3 linked regions of the Homo sapiens genome follow. The protein of the gene in region 2 interacts with the protein of the main gene of each other region in a pairwise test. Each region holds a gene or a part of one and is shown on either strand. Other genes may lie near its edges. The genes, in order: SYAP1, NDN and NEFL.

Evidence for each region.
Region 1: the proteins of NDN (region 2) and SYAP1 interact in binary tests that used the Homo sapiens proteins (3 or more experiments, as listed by UniProt).
Region 3: the proteins of NDN (region 2) and NEFL interact in binary tests that used the Homo sapiens proteins (3 or more experiments, as listed by UniProt).

What each region holds. Positions count from the first base shown.
Region 1 is NC_000023.11:16,757,538-16,761,287, reverse strand, and holds part of SYAP1 (synapse-associated protein 1), read right to left. Parts: intron 1,057-3,750; coding exon 929-1,056; 3' UTR 1-928.
Region 2 is NC_000015.10:23,685,231-23,688,980, forward strand, and holds NDN (necdin), read right to left. Parts: upstream 2,076-3,750; 5' UTR 1,988-2,075; coding exon 1,022-1,987; 3' UTR 170-1,021; downstream 1-169. UniProt on the Homo sapiens protein: Growth suppressor that facilitates the entry of the cell into cell cycle arrest.
Region 3 is NC_000008.11:24,954,835-24,958,584, forward strand, and holds the start of NEFL (neurofilament light polypeptide), read right to left. Parts: upstream 1,779-3,750; 5' UTR 1,682-1,778; coding exon 638-1,681; intron 1-637. UniProt on the Homo sapiens protein: Neurofilaments usually contain three intermediate filament proteins: NEFL, NEFM, and NEFH which are involved in the maintenance of neuronal caliber.

The sequences.
Region 1 (3,750 bases), on a different chromosome or scaffold from region 2:
AGTTTAAAAAGAAAAGAAAGAAAAGGCCCCAGAGAAAAACAAATATTTTCGCACAGCTTTTTTTTTTTTTTTTTTTTGAGACTGAATCTCACTCTATCACCCAGGCTGGAGTGCAGTGGCGCGATCTCAGCTCGCTGCAACCTCTGCCTCCTGGGTTCAAAAGCCTCCCTAGTAGCTGGGATTACAGGTGCCTGCCACCATGCCCGGCTAATTTTTGTATTTTTAGTAGAGACAGGGTTTCACTATGTTGGCAAGGCTGGTCTCGAACTCCTGACCTCCGGTGATCTGCCCACCTCGGCCTCCCAAAGTGCTGGGATTACAGGCCTGAGCCACCACGCATGGCCTGCACAGTATTTCTTAATGTAAAATTGTGTGATGCTTATATCATTAAAATCAACTTATTTATTTTATCTTTTGGCTTTCAGGTGGAATTTTAGAAAATACCTGGCAAGTGAATAGTTCTGAAAGTGCTTCCTCTTAAGTTCTTTGGTATAATTTGGTCATTTTGATAGTAATCAACCCATTAAGTAGGTACTTTAACACCCTCATATCAATTAAAATGGAATGTGGAGTACAGATATTTAGAAAACCATGACTGAGGAATAAATTATATTTTTGACCTCATGGAAAACAGAACTCTAAAATTTTACTTATGTTTCTGTGGCAAAGATAGCCATACTGCCTATGAAGACATCTCTAACTTTATATTAAAGAAATGTTCTATAAAACATCTCTTTCTGATTATTAGAAGTAACTGTTCTATATACTTTTTTAAAGTAGAAGAGGCAAGTTTCAACTTGAAAAAAGAATAATTTTGAATTTCATAAAATTATACTCTTTCATGCCTTCTGATTCAGTAATTGTCAACATCTAGAATTTAATGTCAGTTTGCAGACTGTTAAGGATTATTCTTCTATTTCAGGAACAGCTAATTTTCCTCTTGAAGCATTTTCTCTATTTCCTTATCCCAGTTTTCATCTCGTTTTTCAGATTCTGTCACCACTTCATATTCTTGAAGTTCCTGCTGCAGTTCTTTTTCCCAATCTGCAGAATCCTCTAAAAGAAACAAAGGAGAAGAAAAAGATTCTCTCTGAATTCATAATGCTGGTGTTCACAATTCGGTCCATCTCAATTACCTACGTAAAGTCCTAGCTGCTGTAATTTTTAGTATCTCAGGCTTCACTACTATGTGTGCTCAGAAAAACTCAGTAAATTTTAACAGTGACCAAGGATAAACACAATTAGAAAGATAAATCTGTTAATGTAGAAGCAAAGGTATCAGATGTCATCAATATATTTTGGGTGTTATTTTGCTTTCCCTATGCCTCTGCATTTCCTTTTATTTAAATGGGTAAATGATAATTAATACTTGGTTGCAAGTTAATTTTTACCACTACCAATGATGATGATGGTAGCAAAAGCAGCTAATGTTTATTGAGCACTTACTGGGCTGGGCACTGGCCCAACTGCTTTCTATGTATCACGCTTTTCACCCTTGGAACAGTCCATGGACAAGGTATTACTATTTGCCACATCTTATAGATAGGGAAATGGAGACTTAGGAGAGGTTAAGCAACTTGCCCAAGATCACACCGTTTGACAGCGACAGATATAAGGATGGAACCACATCTGCAGGCTCCACAGTCTATGCTTAACCACTATACAAAGAGCTGTCTCCTTAAGAGTGGAGACAGACACCGGGGTCTGAAGTCAGCCTGGACTCTCTCATGGTGTTCTGACTGGAGCTCTCACACTGGTCTTCCGCGTTGAGATTTAGACCTGCAACTTTCTACACAGACACTCAATATACCTCTGTGTGTGTAGGATAATGCATCTGCTATGTAATGTTATAAAATGGTGAGAAAACAAACTGGCTATTTAAAAAGTAAAGCTAAGATTCATTTTTGTCTCTTTTTTTTTTTTGAGACAGAGTCTCACTCTGTTGCCCAGGCTGGAGTGCAATGGTGTGGTCTCGGCTCACTGCAACCTCTGCCTCCTGGGTTCAAGCGATTCTCCTGCCTCAGCCTCCCAAGTAGCTGGGATTACAGGTGCCTGCCACCACGCCTGGCTAATTTTTGTATTTTTTTTTTTTTTTTGAGACGGAGTCTTGCTCTGTTGCCCAGGCTGCAGTGCAGTGGCATGATCTCAGGTCACTGCAAGCTCCGCTTCCTGGGTTCAGGCCATTCTGCTGCCTCAGCCTCCCAAGTAGCTGGGACTACAGGCACCCACCACCACGCCAGGCTAATTTTTTTTTTTTTTTGTATTTTTAGTAGAGACGGGGTTTCACCATGTTAGCCAGGATGGTCTCGATCTCCTGACCTCGTGATCCGCCCGCCTCAGCCTCCCAAAGTGCTGGGATTACAGGCATGAGCCACCGTGCCCAGCCTGTCTTTAAAAATAAACCTTAAACTTAGCTATAGAGAAAACAAAAATGAAATGCTTTAATCGTTCTACAGCAGCAACCTCAAAGGAAAAGACACCCTGTGTTGTGCAGGAAGCCACCAATTTCACAAATATTTATTAGGGTGCTTACTGAGTGCTAAGTTCCACATTAGGTACTGTAGGGGGACAGAAAGACAATGTGTAACTGCCCTTGGGGATCTTACAATTTAGTCCTGGAGCCAAGATATATAATATATAAAAGACTATTGGGGCCAGGCATGTTGGCTCATGCCTGTAATCCCAGCACTTTGGGAGGCCGAGGCAGACAGATCACTTGAGGCCAGGAGTTCGAGACCAGCCTGCCAACATAGCGATACAAAACATACAAAAATTAGCCAGGTGTGGTGGTGCACGCCTGTAGTCCCAGCTACCTGGGAGGCTGAGGCAGGAGAATCGCTTGAATCCAGGAGGTGGAGGTTGCAGTGAGCCGTGACTGCACCACTGCACTCCAGCCTGGGCGACAGGGTGAGACTCCATCTCAAAAAAAAAAAAAGACTGTTGGGCTGGGCATGGTGGCACATACCTATAATACTAGCACTTAGAGACACTGAGGTGGCAAGATTGCTTGAGCCCAAGAGTTCAAGATCAGCCTGGGCAATCTGGCAAGACCCCATCTCTACAAAAAATTAAAAAAATTAGCCTGGTGTGGTGGCACACGCCTATAGTCCCAGCTACATTGGAGCCTGAGGTGGGTGGATGGTGTGAGCCTAGGAGTTTGAGGCTGCAGTGAGCTATGACGGCACTATTGCACTTCAGCCTGGGTGACAGAGTGAGACCCTATCTCAAAAAGAAAACTGGTTTTTAAAAGCAGCCTGCTCCTTCCCAGAAGCAATGCTCTTTTGGCATGCAGCAGCTGGGAAAAGAATCTTCCATGTACATGTCTACAGTCAAGGAGAATGCCAGCTTTTAAAAATTTATTATTATTATTATTATTATTTTGAGATGAAGTCTTGCTCTGTCACCCAGGCTGGAGTGCAGTGGTGTGATCTCGGCTCACTGCAACATCCGCCTCCCGGGTTCAAGTGATTGTCCCATCTCAGCTTCCTCCCGAGTAGCTGGAATTGTAGATGTGAGCCACTGCACCAGGGCCAAAAACTTATTATTTATTTATTTATTTATTTTTGAGGCGGAGTCTCGCTCTGTCACCCAGGCTGGAGTGCAGTGACGCGATCTCGGCTCACTGCAAGCTCCGCCTCCCAGGTTCATGCCATTCTCCTGCCTCAGCCTTCCGAATAGCTGGGACTACAGGCACCCACCACCAGGCCCGGCTAATTTTTTTTTGTATTTTTAGTAGAGACGGGGTTTCAC
Region 2 (3,750 bases):
TAGGTGCCTGCCTGACAGGCCTGTTGCAAGGATTAAAGGAGAAAAATACATGTTAGGGCTTAGCACAATGTCTCACTCTTTTATATTATAAATATGTTATATGTATATTAATAGATGTCACAAGACATCTATTAATTTTGATAAAATGTAGAAACTTAAGGGAAGGAAATTATTTTTGTTTTTTATTCCCATATGATGTGATTACAGACAATCTTACTGTTTTGTTTTGTATACTTTTCTATATTTGTGAATGTTTTTGAAATAAACATGAGTTACATTTAAAGACAATAGAACTATAAACTTCACAAATTTAGGAGTAATCATGAGTAGCGATTTTTCCCACCCTATTAGGGGAAATAGTTGTATCTGTATACACTGTAAAATAGAGAATTGTCTCATTCCCAACCATACTGCTTTGTTAAAATGATAAAGTACACTTTTCCAAAAATGATTGTATCACAAGAATCTTTAATGTTTACTTTAAAGTTGACTCACGGTGGGGTTGTATATGTGTTTAGTAAAGTGTGCCAAGTGCTCACACTGAGACCAGTCCAGTTCAAATTAGTGTACTCCACGAGGGTGTTTTCTGTGCCCAGCAAGGTCATGAAGGGCCTTGACTTTTCTTGGTTAGGCCGGCTTTGCTGGTGACTTCTTCCAAACTCTGCAGGAGCAGTCTACCCCAACACACATCATCAGTCCCATATAAAAGAATAAGATGGAAACTTTCTCAATGTATTTCATCAGTTTAGCACATCTCTGGTACAAAAATCCAAGAAAGGTAGCACAAAAGCGAAAGCACCAACCAAGCTTACATATAAACAAACATGCATACATCCTAAATACTACACAATAGTACCCAAATGAATACAACATTGCATTAAAGGTATAAAAGCACTGTACTGAAAACTTAAAAGTTACACGTGAATACTGCACTGTAAATCCTGAATACTATAATGACCCACCCCCACCCTTCCACAGCCCTGGTGAGGGTCAGAAACCATTCATCTGCCTCCAGACTTTGCTAGTCCTCAGAGACACTGCTGCGAGGGTAGTGGGCAGTGGGATTAGCCTCCCGCAGAGCTCTGGCCTCCTCCAGAGCTTCTCTGTATCGGGAGGGCCAGGCCTGGGGGTCTTTCTTAAAGACCCTGGCCAGGAACTCCATGATTTGCATCTTGGTGATTTCGCGGCTGGCCCGGGAGCCCCAAAAGAACTCGTATTCGGGCGGCTCCACGTATGGGACGCGCTGGTACTTCAGGTAATTCATTTGGACGAACTCCTCAGTGATGAGCTTCCGCACGTCCCCGAAGGTGGAGTGCTTCTTCCAGGGCCGCAGCCCCAGGATGCGCAGCACGTTCCAGACGGCGCTCTCTCTGGCGCCGCGGCCCTTCACGTAGATGAGGCTCAGGATCATGAGCAGGAGGCCTGTCATGGGCATGCGGTTGCTCAGCGCCACCCTGTCCAGCTCCTCGGGCTCCAGCGCTTTGACCAGCGCAAACTCCATGGTGTGCAGGCTGGTTAGCCTCAGGTGCAGCCCGAACACCCGGGCGAGGATGAGGCTGGTGCGCCGGAGGATGCTCCTGCACCACTTCTTGTAGCTGCCGATGACATCTTTCACCATGTCTGGAAACCAGATGATCATCTTCTTCTGGTCCTTGACCAGCACGTACCACATGAGCTCGTGCGCCTTCTGCACCAGCTGCGCCGGGGCTGGCGGTGCCGGGCCCGGCTGGGCCGCGCTCGGGGCCTGGTGGGCGCGGCCCTCCTCCGCAGCCTGCTGCAGGGCCTTCGGGTCGCCCTCGTCGTTCGGGGCCTGGGGAGGCGGCGCGGCCTGCGGAGCGGCCGTCGGGCCTAGAGGAGGGCTCTGCGGCTCTGCCAGGGTCGCGGACGGAGGAACCCCCTCCGAAACCCCAGGGCTGCTGTGCACCTCGGAGTTGGGGGCCTCGGCTGCAAAGTTAGGGTCGCTCAGATCCTTACTTTGTTCTGACATGTCTGCGCCGTCTGGCAAGGGCAGGGCCTCTGCGTCCAGGAGCTCTTCGAGCCTGCGCTCCCTCCGCGGATTCCTGGAGAGGAAGTGCGCGTTGCTGCGCGCGGCGCCTTCCGCAGCGACGGGCAGGGCGGGGCGGCGGCGGGACGCGGCACTGCGCCTGCGCGACCGCGGCCTTGGCCAGCGGCTGGGGGCGGGCGGGGCAGCGCGGGGCCCCGACGGGGAGGGTCCATGGCGAGGCTTCACCTGCTGGGAGAGCGATCCCGGGGTTTCCTGTTTGGGCTGAGAAGATCTAGGGCAGGAGAGAAGTGAGATGGATGCGTACTGGAGAAGGGGCCAGTTTAAGGGAAAGATACCTTAAGTTTTTGGGATGTTGGGGTCAAGTTTCTTGGGAAACGCTTACCTGGGTATATCCAGAATTAAGTTAAATATGAGAGTCCCAGAGAAAGGTCTGGGCGGCTTTGTAAACATGAGCTTTATGCGAACCAGTGAGAGGAACAGTCGGGCTTGTCCAAGAAAATGTGTAAACTGTAAAGTGGATGTCTGAGGTTGGAATCCTGAGAAATTCCAATAAAAAATGATCGACTCCCTACCAAATCAGATAGGCTATAAGAAAAGGGGAAATGCAGTGTGTCGTTAACGTAATTTCCTATCAACCCATGTGAACTATGAACTTTTTAAGTAGGCAGTGGACTTAGAGCATCATTAATGCTTTAACGGGCATAAATTTGGGTTTTACACTTCCTTTGGGTAACTTTGATTCCATTTTATTTTTTTCCATACTTAGTCCATAGCAGAAGGATTGCTATATCTTTTAGCACAAACTTGTATGATAATGTCTTTTCCCTCTGCCCAGCACCCTCATTCTTCAATTCACCTTCTCTCAGGACCCTCTCTGAAGCTACTGAGTCCTCCACGTTGGAAGCCACACCCAAGTCTTTCCTGAGATTTAAAAAAAAAATAGGTCCCATGGGTAATATCTGGTAGTGTCTCTGAGATGACCAAAGGGTAGCAGGGGAAACATAGGTAACCCTGTTTTCCAGGTATGGAAAACAGATTCCCAGTGGGCAAAGACAAAACTGTCACTCCTACAGGCTCTCCATGAAAAAAAGGGTCATTGCCTGAGCATCTGAAACCAGGGACCTTAATGCTGCTTCAGCATCCTTGGTCTGGGCTGATGTGGTCCTTCAGCTCTTCCCGGGTTTCTTCTCATCAGCAGCTTCTTAAATATGCTGTCTTGAATCTAGTTATTGCCACTCGAAGCCAAAAGCATATTTAAAAATTGTCTTGACATGTCTAGAGTCCTCACTGTGAGTATGTATCTTTTCCCACTTTATTTTTCCTCAAGCAGGTTGATGTTGAAAGGTTTTCTGTGCTTTCTCTCTTTGGGTTTGCACGCACATAACACTTTTGGCAGAGCCATTACCACACCAGTCCCTCCAACAGGACTCTTAAGCTTCCCACTTCACCAGGGTAATTCCTAGATATCAGTCTTAGTTGGAATTATTTCAACACTTTTCTCCTCCTCCTCACCCTCCTCCACCTCCTCCTTCTCCTCTCCATCTACTTCTCCTTTTTCTCCTTCTTCTATTTATAGATATCTACCATTTTCTTGGGAACATCTTACAGAAATATGCTAATTATATTCATTGTTTTTAAGAATGTCTCTTGAACAGACTTATTACCCCCATGCTTCATAAATATAATCCTCATTTATTGCATTTAAATCTCCATCAATATTATTCTTTATTTTGTTTGGGTATGTA
Region 3 (3,750 bases), on a different chromosome or scaffold from region 2:
AAATTGTATTTTTTCTACTCCCCAGAAGATGGAGATGTTTAAACAGAAATGTTGTAGAAGATTTTACACATAAAGAAAAAAAGAAAAAAAAAAGGTAAAAGGAAATGGTTTACTATGAACATCACTAGTTAACTACCTAAAACAATGTTGACTATTTTCCTGTCTACCTACTAAATAAAGGAAGGGAGTGGTTGGTAAAACTAGTCATAAAGCATGCTGGTCACAGTAATCCTTCAGAATTAATTGAGAGTTGTTCACTCTACTATTTATTAACTAGATGATCCGATAGTTGCTGCAAAGTAACTTGTGGTTAATGCAGGTCAGTAGAGAGCTGATCTCACTGCAGGCCGGAGGCAACGCCCAATTCCCACGTCTTCCCCTCCCCCACCCAACAAGGGCTGGGCAGCTTTAATGCGGAACGCCGGTGCAGCAGCACGGAGCACACTCCCAGACTACAGTGGCGCCCGCACTCACGCCCTTCAAGTGCCCCACCCCTCCCACACAGTGGCCAAGGAGCCAAGCCCTATCCCTAAGAGCTGCGTGCAGCCGCACCACCCCTGGTCTCCACTTTCTGGGCGCACCAACTCCCCCCCTTGCTCGAGTCCCCCGCCCCCCTGTGTTTCTGGCCGTGCCGCACCTGCATAGCGCTGATGTCGGCGTTCTGCTTGTCCTCCAGCTCCTGCAGCTGCTTCTCCAGCGCTTCATTCATGCCCCGGCATGCTTCGATTTCCAGGGTCTTGGCCTTGAGCAGACGACGGCTCTCGGACACCTCGTCCTTGGCGGCGCGCACGGCGTCGGTGTTCTTGGCGGCGCTCTCGGTCAGCACGGTGAAGCGGCTCTTGAACCATTCCTCAGCGTTCTGCATGTTCTTGGCGGCCAGCTTCTCGTACTGCGCGCGGATGTCCTTGAGCGCGGCGGAAAGGTCGGGCTTGGTCACGTCCATCTCCACGGAGATCTGCGCGTACTGGATCTGCGCCTGCAGTTCGGCGATCTCCTCTTCGTGCACTTTCTTCAGAAAAGAGATTTCGTCCATCAAGCTGTCGATGCGCTTCTCGAGCTCGGCGCGAGCGAGCGCCGCCTCGTCGGCGCCTTTGCGCGCTTCCATCAGCCGGCCCTCGGCGTCCTCGCGGCTCAGCACCTCCTCTTCATAGCGCGCCTGCAGGTTGCGCAGGGTCTCCTCCAGCCCTTCGCGCTCGCCCTGGAGCGCCTGCTTCTCGTTGGTGGCATCTTCCGCCGCCAGGCGCAGGTCGCGGATCTCCTGCTCGTACAGCGCCCGGAAGCGGGATGGCTCGGAGTGCTTCTGGCGCAGCACCAGCAGCTCGGCTTCCAGGACCTTGTTCTGCTGCTCCAGCTCGTGCACGCGCTCGATGAAGCTGGCGAAGCGGTCATTGAGGTCCTGGAGCTGCGCCTTCTCCTGCGTGCGGATGGACTTGAGGTCGTTGCTGATGGCGGCTACCTGGCTCAGGTCGAGGTTCTCCAGACTGGGCATCAACGATCCAGAGCTGGAGGAGTAGCTGCGGCGCACGGACAGCGAGGAAGACACCGGCGCCGAGTAGCTGGAGTAAGCTGAGCGTGCGGTGCTGTAGCCGCTGCGCACGCTGGAGATGTGCACCCGGGGCGTCTCCACGTAGCGCCGCTTGTAGGAGGTCGAGTAGTACGGCTCGTAGCTGAAGGAACTCATGGTGGCGGCCGGTGGCTCCCCGGCCCGCGGCGGCGGTGGGAGCCCGGAGAGAGAGGACAGGGGAGAGAGGGAAGGGGGAGGATGGATGGCTGTGTGCGGCTCGGCGCCGTTCTGCCACCCCTATTTATACGCCGGGAGGCTCCTGACGCAGCCTGCGATCGATCACGGCACGCCGGCCAGTGGGGGCAGCGCGCTGCTGCAGCCAAGGCGAGGATTCTGCGCAAAAGGGAAGGCGGGGTCGAGCTACGGCCCGAGGAGCTGCGGCGGTCGTCCTTTCCACTTTGCTCAGAGGGCCCTGATTTTCTCTGAGATCCCATGCCCCCTCACTCATTTCCCTTCTGTACTCACTCACGCAGCCCCTCCCGTCCTGCATTGCCCAGACCCCGTGACACTTGGATCCTTAAGTTGCCCCCAAAACAGGTTCTTGCTCCCTTTTGACACCCTAGTTTTCTGTATCCCGTCACCTCGCAGACACCCTGTCCCCCCAACTCGCCCTTTTCCCACCAGGAACCTCCTTAATTTTTTCCCTTGGTGTTTACGGTGATGGTGCGGCTAGGGAATTTTAGATACAAATAAATAGGCTAGGTTATGTGTATGCAGTATGTATGGAGAAGAGTTTTAATTTCTTTCTAGCTTTCTGGCACTTTCTGCAATTCATCTTCCTTTCTCCTGATTATTTTTCTTTTTCTTTAATGAGCTGCTTAACACATAGGGAATGTGCGCGCGAGTGCGCGCGCGCGCGCGCACACACACACACACACACACACACACTCGTGAAACTGCGGCACTACTGCAGGTATTGGTTTAGCATTTTTAAACCTTTACAGCAGTTAATCCGCCTGTTAGTGTTTCTAGATTTTCACATTTCTTAACTGAGAATGAAGCCGCAGATGGCTTTAACGTGTTGCAGTGTGTGGGTGGTGGAGGGCAGAGAAAGAGTTGGAAACACAGAGACTGACTTGCTGAGGCAGCCGCGCGCTCCGCAGCCGGGAGCTTCAAGCTGCCTGGATCCTCACCAAGCTAAATTCCTGCTTGCTACCACCAACCGCAGCACATTTAAAGTCCGCTTTCCTCTTTTTACACATGTGTAGCACACGACCTGATGATTTCGATAAGCCTTGCAGTTGGCTGATTTTCAGGGAAGCCGCTGCGGCCAGCCCTGAGCGCTGGGTGTGGTCTCTGGGGAGGAGAACTCGGCACCCAGGCTTCTTCAGGAACGGATAGAAAATAGCCATAGCCGCGTGACTCTTCCCCCGATACAATGTAATAACCCGAAAACAGATGCAGTCAGGAATGCATGGATTTCCTTCAGGAAGCACCCAGATGCTTGAAACTGGCGCACGCGGTAGCGCACGTGGATACAACCCTACGGTTTGCAGGGCATTTTCACACGCATGATGTTAGGAGTCCCCCAGGTTTCATGGAGGGATTGCAGAGATTTACACGAAACACCTAAGATTTATCTGAGCAAGCATTTAGTTTTTGTTTTATTTGTATATCGCAGCATTTGATGTGCAACTTATGTTTTTTTTAAGAGGCAAACTGAGGGGGAATATGGTAACTGTTTTCAAATAGAGAAGCCGGAATGGCTTCCCCTGTGATACTTGGAGGGTGAAGTATTTGCAGTGGTGCAGTTGCTTCTGGAGACATTTCACTCCTCTCCCGAGGAAAGGATGGGGTGAGGCTTATCCTCAGAGGCCCTTTCTCATCCCCCCCCCCAAAAAAAATACCTGTGATTGTGATAGCCCACCGTCCTCATGATAGACTGCAGCAGATAACTTTCCTCGGGTTTCTAAACAATGTCTGTTGTCGCAAATAATGCAAATTCACAAATATTGAAATTAGTAGTTTAAATCTATCAAGACTAAGTGATCTCAGAGGACCATCCATGCCCAAATATTCTAGATTTCAAGCCTAAGGTCATGAGGCTGTCCTGAATATTGTTTGTCCCTGGCAGGTTTGGTAGGGTACTTACTCTGTTGACTTTTCATAGCCTAGCTATCCTTGGTCTTTTCACTCATGAAATTCAAGGGTGGAATAGGCTTCTCTGGAGGCGGAGGGTGGAACAA